2 separate regions of the Homo sapiens genome follow, and region 1 is linked to region 2. Evidence: fine-mapped expression QTL. A gene starts in region 2. The other region holds a variant in brackets. All regions are shown on one strand. Distances are from middle to middle. Region 1 has its middle 600 kb from the start of ZNF385D-AS2. Region 2 holds the start of ZNF385D (zinc finger protein 385D).

What was found. PIP is the estimated chance that this variant, and not a neighbour inherited with it, causes the effect. A credible set is the group of variants that fine-mapping cannot tell apart.
Region 1: its variant is the best candidate, but not a certain one, in a credible set for the expression of ZNF385D in whole blood (INTERVAL, PIP 0.71).

What each region holds. Positions count from the first base shown.
Region 1 is chr3:22,551,557-22,559,907 of GRCh38, forward strand. No RefSeq gene overlaps it. Among named protein-coding and RNA genes, the nearest start is that of ZNF385D-AS2, 600 kb to the left of the region's middle. The variant T/A (reference allele first, on the strand shown) is at 4,835.
Region 2 is chr3:21,747,865-21,756,215 of GRCh38, forward strand. ZNF385D (zinc finger protein 385D) reads right to left here and starts at 3,346. Exons shown (of 8, transcript NM_024697.3): 1 at 3,031-3,346. The coding sequence starts at 3,052.

The sequences.
Region 1 (8,351 bases), 800 kb after region 2:
ATCAAAACAAAAGAAAACACTGCATAATTCTATTTATATAAACTTAAAAATGGCAAAGTATCTATGGTATCAGAATAGTCATTATCTTTGGGCAGGAAGAAGAGTATAGTCCTTGAGAAGGGGCACAAATAGACTTCTGGGATGCTGATAGCATTCTGCTAGTATTCTGCTTCTTATCTGGTGTCTTAGCTTGGGCTCTTCTCGAAAGTAGACCCTGAAATAGGGATTTGGATGCATGTAATTTGAGAGTTGATCACATAAAGTACAAGTGAGGACATGGAGAAGGTAAGACAGGGAAGAAGGGAAAGCAAGCAAAGAAAGTTGCACTAATGAGCCGATGCCACTGCAGACAGTATGGGCTTATTCTTGCTGCTGTTAACTCTCTGAGAACCATTTGGAACAGGTTTGTCCTGCTCATGTTTCACTGGAGGATGAGGATGGAGGATGAGGATGAGGAGGATGAGCAGTCTGTGCCACCTAGGACCAGACTCCCAACCTGTTGTTTGAGGGTTGCCCCATGGGAATTAACCACCCACGTCCTCTTTCTATCAACAGTTTTTCATTGTGACAGAGAAAGTGCAAGACCCCATCTTTCCCACATGCAGTTGAATCCAGGTGGGCTGCAGGGCTATGATGCACAGCATCAGTAATGCCTGTTACAGGCTGTGTGCTGATTGCCTGGCTGTGACAATTTCTCATGCCATCTCCTTATGACTAGTACGCTTTTATGTATAAGTGTTACACTTCAATAAGAAGTTTATTTAAATATTGTTCAAAGTAAATGCATGAACTATGAATGCAGTGTCATTCCAGAAAAAGGATAATAGCTGAGATGCCTTATATTTAAGAGCAAACCCTTCTCCCAACTACTCTGGCTCAAGTTTCAAGGTGATCCAATCAGCTAGTGTTTGTCTCAATAATAGCAGCATCTCAGAGTCCCTTACATGACAAAGTTTTGCCAATATAGAGAATGATGCTGGCCATGCAATTCAACCTGTGCTTACAAACATAATTATTCACTCGGTCACTCAGTCACTCCCTTGTTCATCGAGTATTGAATACTCATTCAGTGAGTATTCAACTGACCATGCAGTTGGTCAAACACTGCATGTGGTTCTGGTGATAAAATGATGAGCAAATTCTTCCCCCACCTTCAAGGCATTCATAGACCAGTAAGGAGGAGAGATATGTCACCAATTAAATATGACAGAAATAGTTTAGAAATAAAACAGCAAGCCTGGGTGTGGCGGCTCACGCCTGTAATCTCAGCACTTTGGGAGGCCGAAATGGGTGGAACTGCTTGAGCCAGAAATTTAACACCAGCCTGGGCAACAGGGCAAAATCCTGTCTCTACAAAGAAAAAAATATATACAAAAATTAACTAGACATGGTGGGGCATGCCTGTAGTCCTAGCTACGCAGGTGGCTGGGTCAGGAGGATCACTTGAGCCCAGGAGGTTGAGGCTGCAATGAGCCATAACTGCACCACTGCACTCCAGCCTGAGCAATAGAGCAAGACCCTGTGGGAAGGGAAGGCAAGGGGAGGGGAGCGGAGGGAAAAGACAAACAGGTAGGCAAGAAGGAAGAACAGCAGCATAAGCAAAGTTCCCCGAGCATCAGTTTTGTCCAAGACGTCTGAGAATGGCATTGCAGAGACACTTGAAGGAGGAGAAGATTTTGGTGAGATGAAAAAAGCAGGCAAAGACGACAAATGTAAACAAAGACAGGAGGCTGCGGGTGCTTTCGATTGAAGGAGGATGTAATCAAGTATGGCCCAACTCTACACGGTGGTGTGGGTGGTAGGGAAATGAGTTATGGAGCTGATGTGGTAGGGAGAGTCAGATGGTAAGAGGTCTGAAATTGTACATTATTGTAACCAATATTTATTTTATACATAAGGTAGAATCTTCAAAAGTTTTGTAAGTAAGTGAGGAAGTGACATCAGCAAACCCCTGTCTTAATAAGCAGAGACATTAAGTGGAGGATAACTTGGAATGAAGAAAAACTATAGACAATGAGGTCAGTTGAGAGGCTACTGAAATACTTCAAGGAAAGGCAATATGGGCATCTACTTAGTAGAGTCTAGAGGTAATATCTCTATAAACGTCCAAGTTTTACCATTATGTGTGGTCCTAGCACCAGACAGACTATAATGTGCTATTCAAGTAATAAGCACCCTTGACAGACAAGTAAAGGGAAAAATAGCCCTCTCTAGGAACCTAAAATATATTTACAGAAGTGAGACAAGGCAAAGAAGCACAATTTAAACACCCTGATACAAAATCCTGTAAAATAATAAAAGAGAAAATGAGCAAATAAAATAGAGCTGAATGTGTAAGGAACCAATAAAGCTATCTCTAGTGACTAAGTTATTAAATTAACACACACACACACACACACAAACACACAAAGAAAATGAAATTTTTGTGAGAAAAATTTCTTGGTGCATTTTTTTTTGTTTTTTGTTTTTACAAAAAAAGGAAAGGTCTAAAATATAATTAATAGCAGATTAACAAGTCAGAAAAGCACAGGGCTTTGCACGGAATTTTAGGAATATAATTCGTATATATAAAATGTATAGACTAAATAAAAGAAAACAAATTACTAATATGCTTTGGGAAAAAAGTTGAACTTCCAATAAATAGAACTATTTTCTAGGGGAAAAAATAAGTACATGCAGCAATTCTAGAAGGGGAAAAGGACACTTAACAAAGCTGTTAAAAATCATAAGAACAATGGCAACAAAAGCCAAAATTGACAAATGGGATCTAATTAAACTAAAGAGCTTCTGCACAGCAAAAGAAACTACCATCAGAGTGAACAGGCAACCTACATAATGGGAGAAAATTTTTGCAACCTACTCATCTGACAAAGGACTAATATCCAGAATCTACAATGAACTCAAACAAATTTAAAAGAAAAAAACAAACAACTCCATCAAAAAGTGGGCGAAGGATATGAATAGACACCTCTCAAAAGAAGACATTTATGCAGCCAAAAAAAACACAGGAAAAAATGCTCATCATCCCTGGTCATCAGAGAAATGCAAATCAAAACCACAATGAGATACCATCTCACACCAGTTAGAATGGCAATCATTAAAAAGTCAGGAAACAACGGTGCTGGAGAGGATGTGGAGAAATAGGAACACTTTTACACTGTTGGTGGGACTGTAAACTAGTTCAACCATTGTGGAAGTCAGTGTGGCAATTCCTCAGGGATCTTGAACTAGAAATACCATTTGACCCAGCCATCCCATTACTGGGTATATACCGAAAGGATTATAAATCATGCTGCTATAAAGACACATGTACACATATGTTTATTGCGGCACTATTCACAATAGCAAAGACTTGGAACCAACCTAAATGTCCAACAACGATAGACTGGATGAAGAAAATGTGGCACATATACACCATGGAATACTATGCAGCCATACAAAAGGATGAGTTCATGTCCTTTGTAGGGACATGGATGAAACTGGAAACCATCATTCTCAGCAAACTATCGCAAGGACAAAAAACCAAACACCACATGTTCTCACTCATAGGTGAGAAATGAACAATGAGAACACATGGACACAGGAAGGGGAACATCACACACTGGGGACTGTTGTGGGGTGGGGGGAGGAGGGAGGGATAGCATTAGGAGATATACCTAATGCTAAATGACGAGTTAATGGGTGCAGCACACCAACATGGCACATGTATACATATGTAACAAACCTTCACGTTGTGCACATGTACCCTAAAACTTAAAGTATAATAATAAAATTAAAAATAAAATAAAATACAAAAAAAATCATAAGAACACACACACATACCTATCTGTACATTCAACAGGTACTTCTCACACACCTCTTATTTGCCAGGCACTGTTCCAGGGCTGGAGATACAGCAGTGAATGAAACAGATACAAATCCCTTCCTCACGAAACACACATTATCATCCACTTTGCAATCAATCTATTCCTTACATTTCTAAAACGCAGTCCGATCTCACCCCCTGCTTAAACCCTCCAGGGGTGTGCCAGCATGAACCCTCACTATTCTCTATGTAGCCCAGCCAGACCAAGCCCTCCCATACCTCTCTAATCTCATTTTCTTCCATCTACTTCCTTGCTTTCAATAGTCCCACTATACTAGCCTTCTTTATGTTCTTCAAATACTTCAAGCTTATTTCTATTTTAAAGCTCTGTCTCTTGCTTTTCCCTCTGCCTTGCAAGACTTGCCCCAGATATTCACATGATGCTGCCTAAGCCCTGCAGACTCAGCTCAAGTATTCTCTCCTTGGTGACATTTTCTGGACTGCACAAGCTCAGAGCACTTAGCACTTTAAAATTGTTTTATCATCTCCTCTAAGCTCCACAAGAGCATGGAGCATGTCTATCACATTCAACAGTAGAGATGCCTAGTGCCTGTAAGTGCTTGACAAACAGTAGATGTTCAAAAAGGACTGCTGTTACATGACCGAGTATGTGTGCATATGGTTTAGTGAGAGAAGGTCACTTGAAAATTGCAACTTAGCCAATTGCCCAGCCATGAAAATTTAAAGAAGAATAAGCTCTTTCTGCCAATTCATGCTGTTTGTGCTATGCCCTTATGTGGCAGGTTCTCAAATCAGCAACGGGTATTTGGTGGCAGAATGGCAGTGGTGATTTTGGTGATGATGATGATGACTAAATGAGTTTTCCTGCACTGTACCCTCAGATAACAAGTCTGTACACAGGCCAAAAACCTCAACCAACCAACCTCCAACTAACGGTCAGAAAAGATAGAAAGTAAATTCTTTTCTGCTCCTGAATTTTAATTGTGACTTGCAACGTACATGTGTTTC[T/A]CCTTTATCTTCTCTAAGCGCAAGGCACTGTCAGTTTTCCTCAGCGGCTTGCTACAATGAAGTGTGTATGTCTATGCATATATGTATTCATTCCTCAGGATTTTGAGTGAAACTCCAAGTTTTATTTACACTCGCAAAGCTTCTACAAATTTGTAAAGCCACAAAACTCAAGGCTGACTCTAAAATCTTTAGACATGCCATTCCAATTTGGTGGCAATCAGAGTTCAGGTCATATTTATGTGGCTTCTTAGTCCCAGCAATATTTAAACTTCAAATGCTGAGCATCGTATGTACAAGCATGATGCAGTGCAACCTGAACCTGGAAAAAAAAACACTCCAGCACCTTTGATTGTCCTGTTGATTGCAGAGTGGTGAACCCATGTACACTGACTTTTCAATCAACCACTTTTTGCCTCAGTCGGCTCAGAAAGAGAACTTCAGCTAAATAAATATTTCTGACAATTGACCTGCAGTGCAACAAGACGCTCACAAAAGAAAAAGGAAAAGATACATCTAAACTGCCTGTCAGCTTTTCTTTTTCTGATAGAAAGTAGAGCTTCAGATACTCTGAGAAAGATTCCAATTTGTACAATTTGTACATACTGGTGGTAGCAGAAAATAAAGCCAAACTATAAGGGAGTTCAAAGTGTCACTCATTTTACAATTAAAAATCAAGGACATCAGGAAGGAATGAAAATAACTCACTTGTATAGAGGCAGTGAAAACAACATTCACGTCACAGATATAGCCATTTCCATCTCCACCCTCCTCATTACTCAGGCTGAAAAATGGAAGAGTGAGGCTGTCTTACCCAGGCTGAACTCTTCCCTGCAGCCAGAGAAGGGGAGACAGTGGAGGAACCTAGCTGTGTCAAGCTAGCTCTGTGACCTTGGTAGGTCACCTCATGGCTGCACCTCTCTTTTCCCATCTACGAAATGCGGAGGTGGAGATGAGGATTGTAATTCCTGTTAATTCTAATATTCTAATAGTTTGTTTTTCACAACCTGCAGAAAAACATAAGGGAAAACAACTTGATACTTCTATTCTCTCCTTTCAATACAAGTAATACATGAATCACTTAAATTCAAATTGAAAAAGAACAAATAGAATTTCACCCCTTCTCCCTATTCCTAGTTTTCTCAATAATGTGTTTTAAATCTATTTCCATATCTTTCAGGACCCAAGGATATTTCTTCCTAATTTCCACCTCCAAATTTGCTACTTCATGGCACTTACTTTTTAATGAGTAAGCTTCTGCTTTCTTCAAGAAGCTATCTGAGAAGGTGGGGTCAGAGAACCAAAAGATATCATTTATTCTCTTAGGAATCTGAGACTATAAATATTTTGTTATGGGTGCAGATTCTTTTAACCTGAAGTTTAGATCATGTTAAATAGAGAGTATCTGCCTTAAAACAGCTTGACATGTGACCCCTATATTTATAACCCTTCTAACTTAAAACTGCAGTACTCACCAAAACTCACATATACCATTGCCAAAAGATTGCTACTTAAGTATGTTTTCCATATTGGGACACATAAGCCAATCTACAACCATGTATATACAATGCAAACATTTATTTCATAATTACTTTTTAATTTTGTAGATCTTCTTCAATTTGTGAATTTCCTTTGCTTTGCTGTACTTGAAATGGACAGCACATGCATGGCCCATAAAATTAAAAACCAAAAAAAGTCAATGAAATCTTTTATTTGGGAAATTAATTCTTGATGGTTTGAGTCAACAAGAATCAAGAATAAAAGATTCTAAATCTACTCTGTGAGATAAAATGGTCCCATTGCACAGTGAGTGCTCTCCTTCAAGGCAAGCAAAGAGATGCTTGAAGCCCATGATAGTGCTAGGCCCATAGAACCAATGATGATAAGAAAGCTGTTTTGCTAATGTAGGAAATAGGAAAACTTTTTATTCTATTGTTCTAGAATCAGATGATGTAAATTCCTATACCTGTATACTAGACAGTTGAAACAGTCTTGGTGACACTGATACCACAAAATTTTCTCACCAAACAACAGAACTTGGCAGGCCTAGTATCATATTCAGCCATAGTTCAATCATAAAGGAATTTGGAAAAAACTCTGCCCTAAGTTTGGTCAAGATCTTGAAACTTTATGCTATAATAAGTATCACTGAAACTGTGACAAACATTACACACATTACACATATCCTAGAACTAAAAGTTTCTTTCGTGGTTTGAATTATTGGATCCAAAAATTTTAGCATTGAAATTCTTATTGAAATGGAAAAGTAAGAACTGTTGAAGATTTTTTTAAAAAAGAACTAAGCATGAAAACCATACTTTAGCTAACAGAAAACTTTTCAGTATTCTCCTAGATATAGATACAAGTAAAATAAGCAATGCCAGCATTCTGGAGAATAGTTCTCCCCTTCTCTGTTGCTATTCCTACTTTATTGCCTTCATAGAAACTTTCCCTCTCTGACATTGCCAGATTTGCTTACCTATTCCATGTATAATATCTATCTTCCCCTAATAAAATGTAAGCTCCATGAGGACAGACACATTATGTCTCTTGTTCACCATCATATCCACAGCAAACATTTGAAAATAAAATAATTGAATAGACGAATGTATAAATGTATGAGGTAAAATTTGAATGTAGTACAAAGTTTCTTGACATGATGAAGCATGCCTGTATTGCTACAAATAAGGATAAGTAGAAATACAAATAAGTAGAATAAATAGGAAGAGAGTCATCTTTAATAAAACCTGCCTAGCATTTTAAGAAGCCTCAAATAACTTGTGCAAAAAAGTTACCAATATTATTATCCAATAATATGTTGGATAATATATTACTACATAAATAAATGTATTGTGCCTTATAATTTAAATACTTGGTGGTATACGATTAAAGCATTCTTTAAAAAGCATGTATTTCTGTTTGACTTGTTTTCTGATAAACTATTCTATTTAAATAGTGTGAAATGTGCTTTTAGAACCTAAGTACAGCATACATAACATGAACACCGTCTATTTCAGAAATAAAAATTCAGTTTACCATTGTGGGACTTAATTCATTAGTTTTTGATGTTTTAAATTAGGGATTTCTTATTTACAGTTTTTTTTCCTACTTTTTCCGTTAACATGATCCTATTCATGTTATACATTTTATAACTATCATTGCACTGTATTCTAAATTATGTTAGGTAAGTATGTTATGAAAGCATAACTAGATAAACTGGACTACATCAAAATTTAACATTTCCTCATCAAAGGACACAATCAACAGAGTGAAAAGGCAACCCATGGAATGAAAGACAGTATTTATAAATCATATATCTTCAAATCACCAAACAAATGAAGAGCTCCTACAACTCAAAAACAAATAGTTTAAAAATGGGCAAAGCACTTGAACAGACTTTTCTCCAAAGAAGATATACAAATTGCTAAGAAGCATATGAAAAGAGGCTCAACATCATTGTCATTAGGAAAACGCACAACAAAACCACCATGAGTTACTACTTCATACCCATTAGGACATC
Region 2 (8,351 bases):
CATCTTTGGCACATGTAATTTTTAACTATCTAAAACATTGATGGGGGTGGGAGGGTAAATTTATAAGTATTTATTATTTTCCCTTGCTTTTACAGTAAATCCCACTCAGGTTGCTGACTGAGATTTTCCCTGCTTCCTTCTCCCATGTGAACCTTATATTTAACTCCAAATGGTGAATGCAAGATCCAAGATTGATAGAATAAGTAACAAAAGTGTCCACGGTGACTGAACAGCAAACTCTGAAATCACAGCACAGGAAGTACAAATGAACGATTATTGAAAACACTGCACTAAAATCTCAATAGGAGATAAGAGTGAGGCTTAAGTCATTAGAAAGCTCTATTATTCTGGCAAGTCTGAGACAGCACACTACAAACATGAGCTGTTCTTGAGATCTGAAAATATTACATCTTCCACCAACTTGCACACACACACAACTGACTCCAACTAAGCAAGGGCAGGGTCCAGTTGTCCAGTCCCAAGGGGAAGGAGGAATGAATTGAAGCAGATAGGCTGAGCCAGGCTATTCAGGTAGTGATTCTTCAGCTATATTTGAAGGGGTGGGGGTGGGGGGCAACACTGACAAATCAGATGATTTATAAAGGAAGTAAATATCCCGCTTTCATATCAATTCACCCGTACCATAGCATCACCATGCTCTTCATCACGCTCTGCTGGGGACACAAATAAAGGATTTGTGACATCTCTACCCCATTCTCACAAGTCACCAGAAAAGCCTAAGAATGCAGCATTGCTTTCCCTTTGTCCCTGTTCTCCCTGACTTGATAAACCATTTGCAGTTGAAAAATGAAGAAGAAAGTAATGGCCAACCAATTTGCAAAGTGAAAGCATTGCTTGGAAAAATTACCTGAAATCGCTACAATTTTGAACACGCACACACATTAAGATACATACACATGTACACATATATGTGTGTGCGTACATACATACATATATAAATACATAGTCTTCAGCATTTTCAAACATTAGGATGCTATTGAATTTTAACATGCCTGAAGTGTACTGCTCAATTCTTTTTGCCCTCGCTCTTGTACCACACATTTTTTTTTTAGAGACAGGTGGGCTCCCAAAGTTGTGGATATCTAACAGCTTGTACGAGAAGCTGCATAGCATAACCCGAAAGAAACAGCATTCCTGAATACATAGGATTTCCTCTGGGAGCAGAAAAACATTTCTTATACCAAAATTATGGTAAGACAATGTTCAAGACACTGAGGGCAACTTTAGCCTTGCCTTTCAAAGAGTAGAGTTTCATCTAAAGTAAGTAGGACATCACATTTCAATTCGTACTATTAAAAACTTGCATTACACAATGAAATTGATTACCCTATGAATCACTCTGCTTTACAAGAGGCTGAACTAGCATACAGTTAATAACACAAGCTAGCCCACTGAACATTTCTCCAATAGTCACACGATAATCCAGTCCAGCATGGATGGCCTTTGACCAGTACTTTTAGACTCTACTGCTATTCTAATTGGCCCTACTTCCTCACGACGATCACATAAGGAATTGTTTCAAGAGGGTGAAAATATAAACTAAAATTATAATCTGTTTCATCATCCTTCAGTATCATTACTGATGCTGAAATTGTATTTTGTCCAAAAGACCTATTATCTTTACAAGCTTTTCCATTTATGAAAATATATGCATGATAAACTCTGTTAGTGGCCAATAAACAAGCTTACCACCTCCATTACTACCCACTGGAAAGAGATGGTTTTTAACTACAGATTCTGCTTAAATTTGGCAATGCAATGAAATTGTTTCTTCCAAATCATTTTCAGCTATTTTAAGACTTCTCTTCTAATATGATACAAATTATAGGCAAATCAAAACTGTCAAGACAACTAAAGGCATTTAGCTTTTGGAACTTAGATTCCTTCCACACACTCTCAAGTGTCTCAAAGCCTAAAGGAAACAAAACAGAGCAAATAGTACATACAGAAATAAATTTCCAACAAACTAATAGTGCCCCAACCTAAGTTTATCTAAATACCTCTTTAATCTGAAAGAAGACGCTAGATTTAATATTTAAAGCAAACCAAGAAATCAGAGCATTTGCATCTTGGATACATTTCCTAGCCCCTCTCCAGTTGCTCTATCAAACCTTTTAATATCGCATAGATGCCCTTAAATGATGACGCCAGATAGGACTTACAGAAGGAAAGCATAACTTCAGAGAGGAGGAACAAATATTCAGTCCTTATCTTTGACTTCTTCTTATTTAGTGAAGGGGCTTGCCTCCTGTACTAGCAGTAAGTTGCGGCGTTAGAGTGCAAATGCACAGCTCCAAGCCCACTTCCAGTGCTCAACTGATAGCTCGGATCCAAGCCTCAACATGCTTTCTGGAAATGCAGGCAGCTCAACTGAAAACCTAACTGAGGTTTCTACCGTGGCACAAAACTGACCTGCACAAATATTTGACATCTCCGAGACCTCTAAAGGTTTCAAATAATATGCATTTTGTGCTAGGCTGCTCCTAGCTAGACAGAGCACTGAGATGATATAGAGAAGTGTTCTCAGCTGCTCAACCACACTGCTCACTAGACAATGTTTTCCTTTTCCGCCTCAGAACAAGAAAAACCAGCAAATACTGAATGAAATGCTCATATTGACTAAGCTTTCACAGCATCAATTGTATAGAAACTTTGTTTCACATTCCATTAAGTTAGCTCATGACTTCCCACGCTGCACTATTTCTCCTTCACCTAGCTAAAAGAGCCAACTTCATTCAGGCAAATCAAGGCAAAGTTTACCCCCCCGCCCCCTCCACATGTCCCTGTCTCTTTTCTTTTCCAACTTAAACTCATCCACGGCTAAATTAACAGCCCCAGTTGTGGCACAAAGGAAGCTTTGAAGGCTGCACCGGCTTGGTCCTCCAGTTGCCAACTGGAGGTAGGTTTAATGTAACATATTCTTGCTGCTTAAAGAATTTTTTAAGGGCTTGTCTGCACGGATGAAGAGCCGGACACCCCCAGAATTACATCATCAGAGTGAACACTCACCAAAATACATTATGTTTCTCATTAATCAGACAGCTGGAATCCCACCGCGGTGTCTTCAGCATCAGCTCTCACCCAAGGCTGGCACGTAGAGCAGAGCCCTTTCATGCTACATTCGGTGGAAATGTCCCCGGCGTGGAGAGCAGTGAGCGCCGAGAGCGTGCCTCCTCCGCGGGATGAGCGCCTTGCAGGCTGCCTTTCCAGGGCTAAGATCCCCGGCGGCTGGAGAGTGCGCTCGGGCTGCCTGCTGCACTGCCCATCCTTACTGTAATCCGACTCCTCCTTGCGATGTCCTTGCCGCGCCTGTGACATCAGGACTGAGAGTACTACAAGCAGACCCCTCCACCCCACCCCACCCCACCCTGGGTTAGCAGCCGCTCCACGAGGTGCTCCGACTGCCTGCCTGGACCAACCATGGCTCTCGGGAAGCTTTGACGAGCCCAGAGACTTGGGAAGGGGCGGAGTGAGGGGCGCGGGAGGCTCTCTTAAAGCGAGAAGAGTGTCGGGATCCACACAGGAACACACAGGAGAAATTCACCACTGTGCAGGAGGGACGTGGTTAAGGCGAGTTCTGCCATTAACGTGTAATTAGACAACACTTTTACCCCGCCCCTCCTGTGAATGCCACCATTCTCTCCAAAATTTAACCTCCTCTACCAAGTTAAAACGGCAGTACGAAGAGGGATGGTGCCGTGCTTGCATTCTCTTTGCTGTGGGCTTGAGGGTTTGTTGTTATTTTTTGTGATGTTTATATATAAGAGGAATAAAAGGAACGCCAGGGACCACTGCTAGGGTAATAGAGGTTCACACTTAGAAGTGATCACATCCCAGAAAGCTAGTACTTGGTGAAGTGTAATTTTTTATTTCTTGAGTGTTCCCTGAGCTATTATGTTGATAGAAAGATGTGAAGAAAAATAACTGGTGATAAAAGTCACCTCTCAGTTGCCCAGGACCAAATTTGCTGCCTCCCTTAGTAGGCAGGTAGAAAGCACACTGAGGCTGAAATGATCTTTGACCTCCTGAAACGGAGAGACGATTAGCCTGAAAGGCAACCAACATTGTGCCATAGTTAGAGTCCAGTCACCAATATAATATAGCCACACACACACACACCCACCCCCCTCCCCCCCCCACCACACACACACACAACGCTCTCATTAAATTTGAGATGAACGGTCAAGAAAGGCAAAGCTTAGCAAAGCCTCTGGCTCCTCCAATGGTATAATGAATTGCAGTCCTTATCTTACATAGAAAAGGATATTAGAAAGAAATCCCTGAAAGCTGTGCTGATTAATACTTAAATGCACAGCATGGAAAAAATAAACTCATACAGCAAGTTCCGTTTCCTAAGGACTCATCACTTTGGGAACCAATTTACGTACTGGAACATTTGAACTTATAAATTTCTATAGACATTTATGAAATTAAGAACCAAATATAAACAAAGAACTGTAGTCTATGGAAGAATGCAATTGATATATTTTTAATCTGGGCTTTTATAAAAGTGTGATAGCAAAGATTTCTACATTTTGATATTAAAATATTCTATAGCATTTCCTTACGCGATTCTATATCTCTTGGTGGATTTAATGTGCATAGAAACTAGGGGGCTGAAGCTCATAATAACGGCTTTCTGTGCAATCTTGCATAAAAGCTTAACTGTATTCTACCTCTGTGAAGAGTGCAATGAACAATATCCTCTCTCACGCTAGATTATAAAGAATTTGGTGAGTGAAAGTAGGTAAGCAAATATAAATCAGAAACATCACAGTGAATCTTAAGATAAATCTAGGGCTGTTCTTTTAGAAATACTCTTAATTTAAAGCCACCAGAGGAAAATTTACATAGTAAAGGATATTAACTTTTTTACTCCCTTTTAAAAATTAAAATAAAAACAATGTTACGGGAAAGTATTGAAGAAAATGCGTAAATGTTTTTTCCTTTTGGACAAATGGAAATTGTCCAAAAGTACAATTAGTAGTTCTTCCCTCAGGCAAAAGAACCATCTGTGGTAGAGCTTATTCATGAAGCCTGTAAGCTGCCTTGACCTCCTACATGTGCTAGGGGGCACTGTAGTTTAATGTTAGTGCTTTGGGTCCATTTGAGTTCCTGTAGTTGGAAGATGCAAGCATTGAGAGTTGAGTTTCAAATAGGAGATTTGAAACATTAAAGGACTACCTTAATCATTAATAACACGCTTGCATTTGCATGACATTTTACAGTTAAAAGGCACTTTCACATGTCATCTTTATTACTAACAAATTGAGATATAGAAAGGTGGATATTACAGATGTCACAAATGAAGAACCTGAGGCTCAGAGATGTTAAGCAACTTTCTTAATGATGTGATGAGTAAGAAACAGTTGTCTTACTATTTGTTTGTTGAATTTATATTACAGTTCTCCAACAGGTTTCCTTCTTCAAATAAATGTGCTATTTATAATGGCTCAGGTAAAAGTCACCCCCAATAAAACAATGTCACTGCATGTTCTAGAAACAAATATATCTATATGGTCACAAATACATCAGCAGGGAGCATCTGGTAATAGAACATGCCAATCTTTGCCTGGTAGTATACCCCAAAAAACAGCATGTAGCCTTTGAAAGAATATGGCATTCCAGAAACAATTGAGTGTAATATCTATACAATGTAATTCTGTTCAAACAGAAAAGGAAGATGCCCTTTTAAATTAAAGATATGTGCCCCTCTTCCCTGCAATTAAGGCTTATCTGGAATGTAGAAGCTTAAGATACAAAGTTGTTTATCTCTGGATGGAAAACAAGTGATGTTTGTTTTAATTGTATACTTTTTCCTGTTTTACATAAAACTATTTTATTTATTTGTATACATTTATTAAAAAATGCAACTTTGGTGGTTGTTGTTGTTGTTGTTGTTGTTGTGTGTGTGTGTGTGTGTATTTGCGTTTTGTACTTTGAGCAACATCTCCCTAATACTCTCACCCTGCAGCTCTGGTAACCATTTTATTCCTGTTTCTATAGAGTTTGACCTTTTTACACTCTACATATAAGTGAAATCATTGGGTATTTGTTTTTATGTACCTGGCTTATTTCACTTAAGACAACAATGTCCTCCAGGTTTATCCATATTGTCACAAATGAGAGGATCTTCCTCTTTTAAAAGGTTGAATAGTATTCCATTATGTATATATGCGACATCTTTGTTATCCATTCATCCACTAGTGGAAACCTTGCTTGATTCCTGTGAGTAATACTGCAATGAACATGGTAGTACACACATTTCTTCAACATATTATTTTTTTTAATTTTGAAGCATAATAATTTCCAAATGAAACCACAGCTGATCTTGGCTAGATAGAGGATTGTGAACATGCCAGCTGTGCCTGAGAGATGCTTTCATATGTCATCTCAAGGGAGCGACTTAGCAGCTTCTAGGGAAGAATCTGGTTCACACCCTGACCTTTACCTGTCTCTAAGAATCTGTGAGAACCTAGGAGCTTCTGAAGGTGAATTAAGTCAGTTCATCTGGGGTCAGCTGTAGCACCAACCTGCTTGCCAGATAAAATTATACCTAGCACTATTAAAACAAAGGATGCCTTCAAACCACTTACATATTTTGTATTAAAATATCATGGTTGGGTGAAAATTTTTTCTGTGTTCTAAGATCCGGGTAGCTGCCTGCCTTGACTCCTCATCTCATTCAAATATTGCTCAAAGGTTTATCAGTGTACTAATTCACTGTCTTTTTTTTTTCCAGTTTTAAAATGCCTTTGTCCCTCCCCTGACATTTCTTAACCTCCTTTCCTCCCTTATTTTTCTCCATGGCAACTATCATCATCTGACACACTATTTTAGACGTCTGTTTATTTTTGATTTCTCCTCACTGGAATATAATCTCAGTGAGGGCAGGGATTTTATCTGTTCAATGCTATATCTACAGTTCTTAGAAAGGTACCTGCTACTTGTCATTATACAATAAATATTTGTGAATGAGGGAATGAATGAATGAGCATCCTAAGTACAGCTGTATTGTGTGTAAGACATCATACTTTTCTATGTGCCTGAAGTCAGTTCTTTGAGGTTGGTTGTGTTTTGTGCAAAGTGTTCACACAAATTGAATTTGTCCATGCTTAGCAGCAGCTGCTCTTAAATTCCATTCAGTACAGATGCCAGATGGTACTGCAGGCCACAGTTTGTGAGTGTGTTTGTCCTTTCAAATTCTCATAGCTGCATGGAGCAGAGACTTAGATTCAGCATGAGTTAGCATAGCTCAGTTGTGTCTTCCATTGCCTCGCCCTTGGCTTTAGTTTAGTCCACCTTTATCTTTTATCTATATTGTAGCAATAAAATTGTATCCAGTGTTCCTGATTTCAGACTTGCCCATGTCCAATTCATTCTCCATATTAGATCCATTATCATCTTTAAAAATGGTATGATCATGCCACTCCTTTGCTCAGTATTCTTCACTGTTTCCGTATTTTATCCACCAAGGTCGTTAAGGTTTTCGACAACCAAGTCCCTATTCGCTTCTCCATTTGTAAATACTTTGTCCTTCACACTCTTCACTGTGTGAAACCTAAAGTATGGCTATAATTCACCTGAAGACTACATTCCCTTTCACCTGCTCTCTCTACTGAAGCAATCTGTAATCAATCTTTGGGTGTCTGTTTAAATATTATGTCTTCTGAGAACATTTTTCTCACCAAAAGACTAAATGAGGTGTTGTTTGTATTCTTTTTCACATAGCACACTGTACTAATTCCTACTATAGCATTTAAACTTAGTGTGGGAATTTGCCTTTACTTGTATGTAACCCAAATGAAAGAGGATTTTCTTTTTTAACTCCATGACCTCATACAAATCCATCGTTTAATGAACAAATTCATTATTTATCTATGAATTCATTCAACATTTTTGAATAAATTTAACATCTTATGAATGCCTATCATGTGCCAGGCATTACTCCAGGTGCTGGATGAAGAACGCTGCAGAAAGTGCAAAGGATAAATGGGGAATACACCTTATGAGTGCCAGGAAGAACAACAAGGCCAATATGCTAGAGTAGAGTAGATCTTAAAAAGCAAACCAAGAGTTGACTTCAAATAGGTAAGATGGAGCCAAATTCAGTAGAACTTTTTAGGCCATTAGAAATACTTTGACTTTTATTATGACTTACATGATATAACTTTGGAGCAACGTGATTTGACATGCTTCAACAAGTTCACTATGACTGACGTATGAAGAATTGACTAAAGCGAGCAAGGACAGATGTAAGGTGACGGGTTAGGAAGCCTTTGTAGTAATCCAGGAAAGAGAACATGGCTTGGACCAGGGAAGAAACAGTG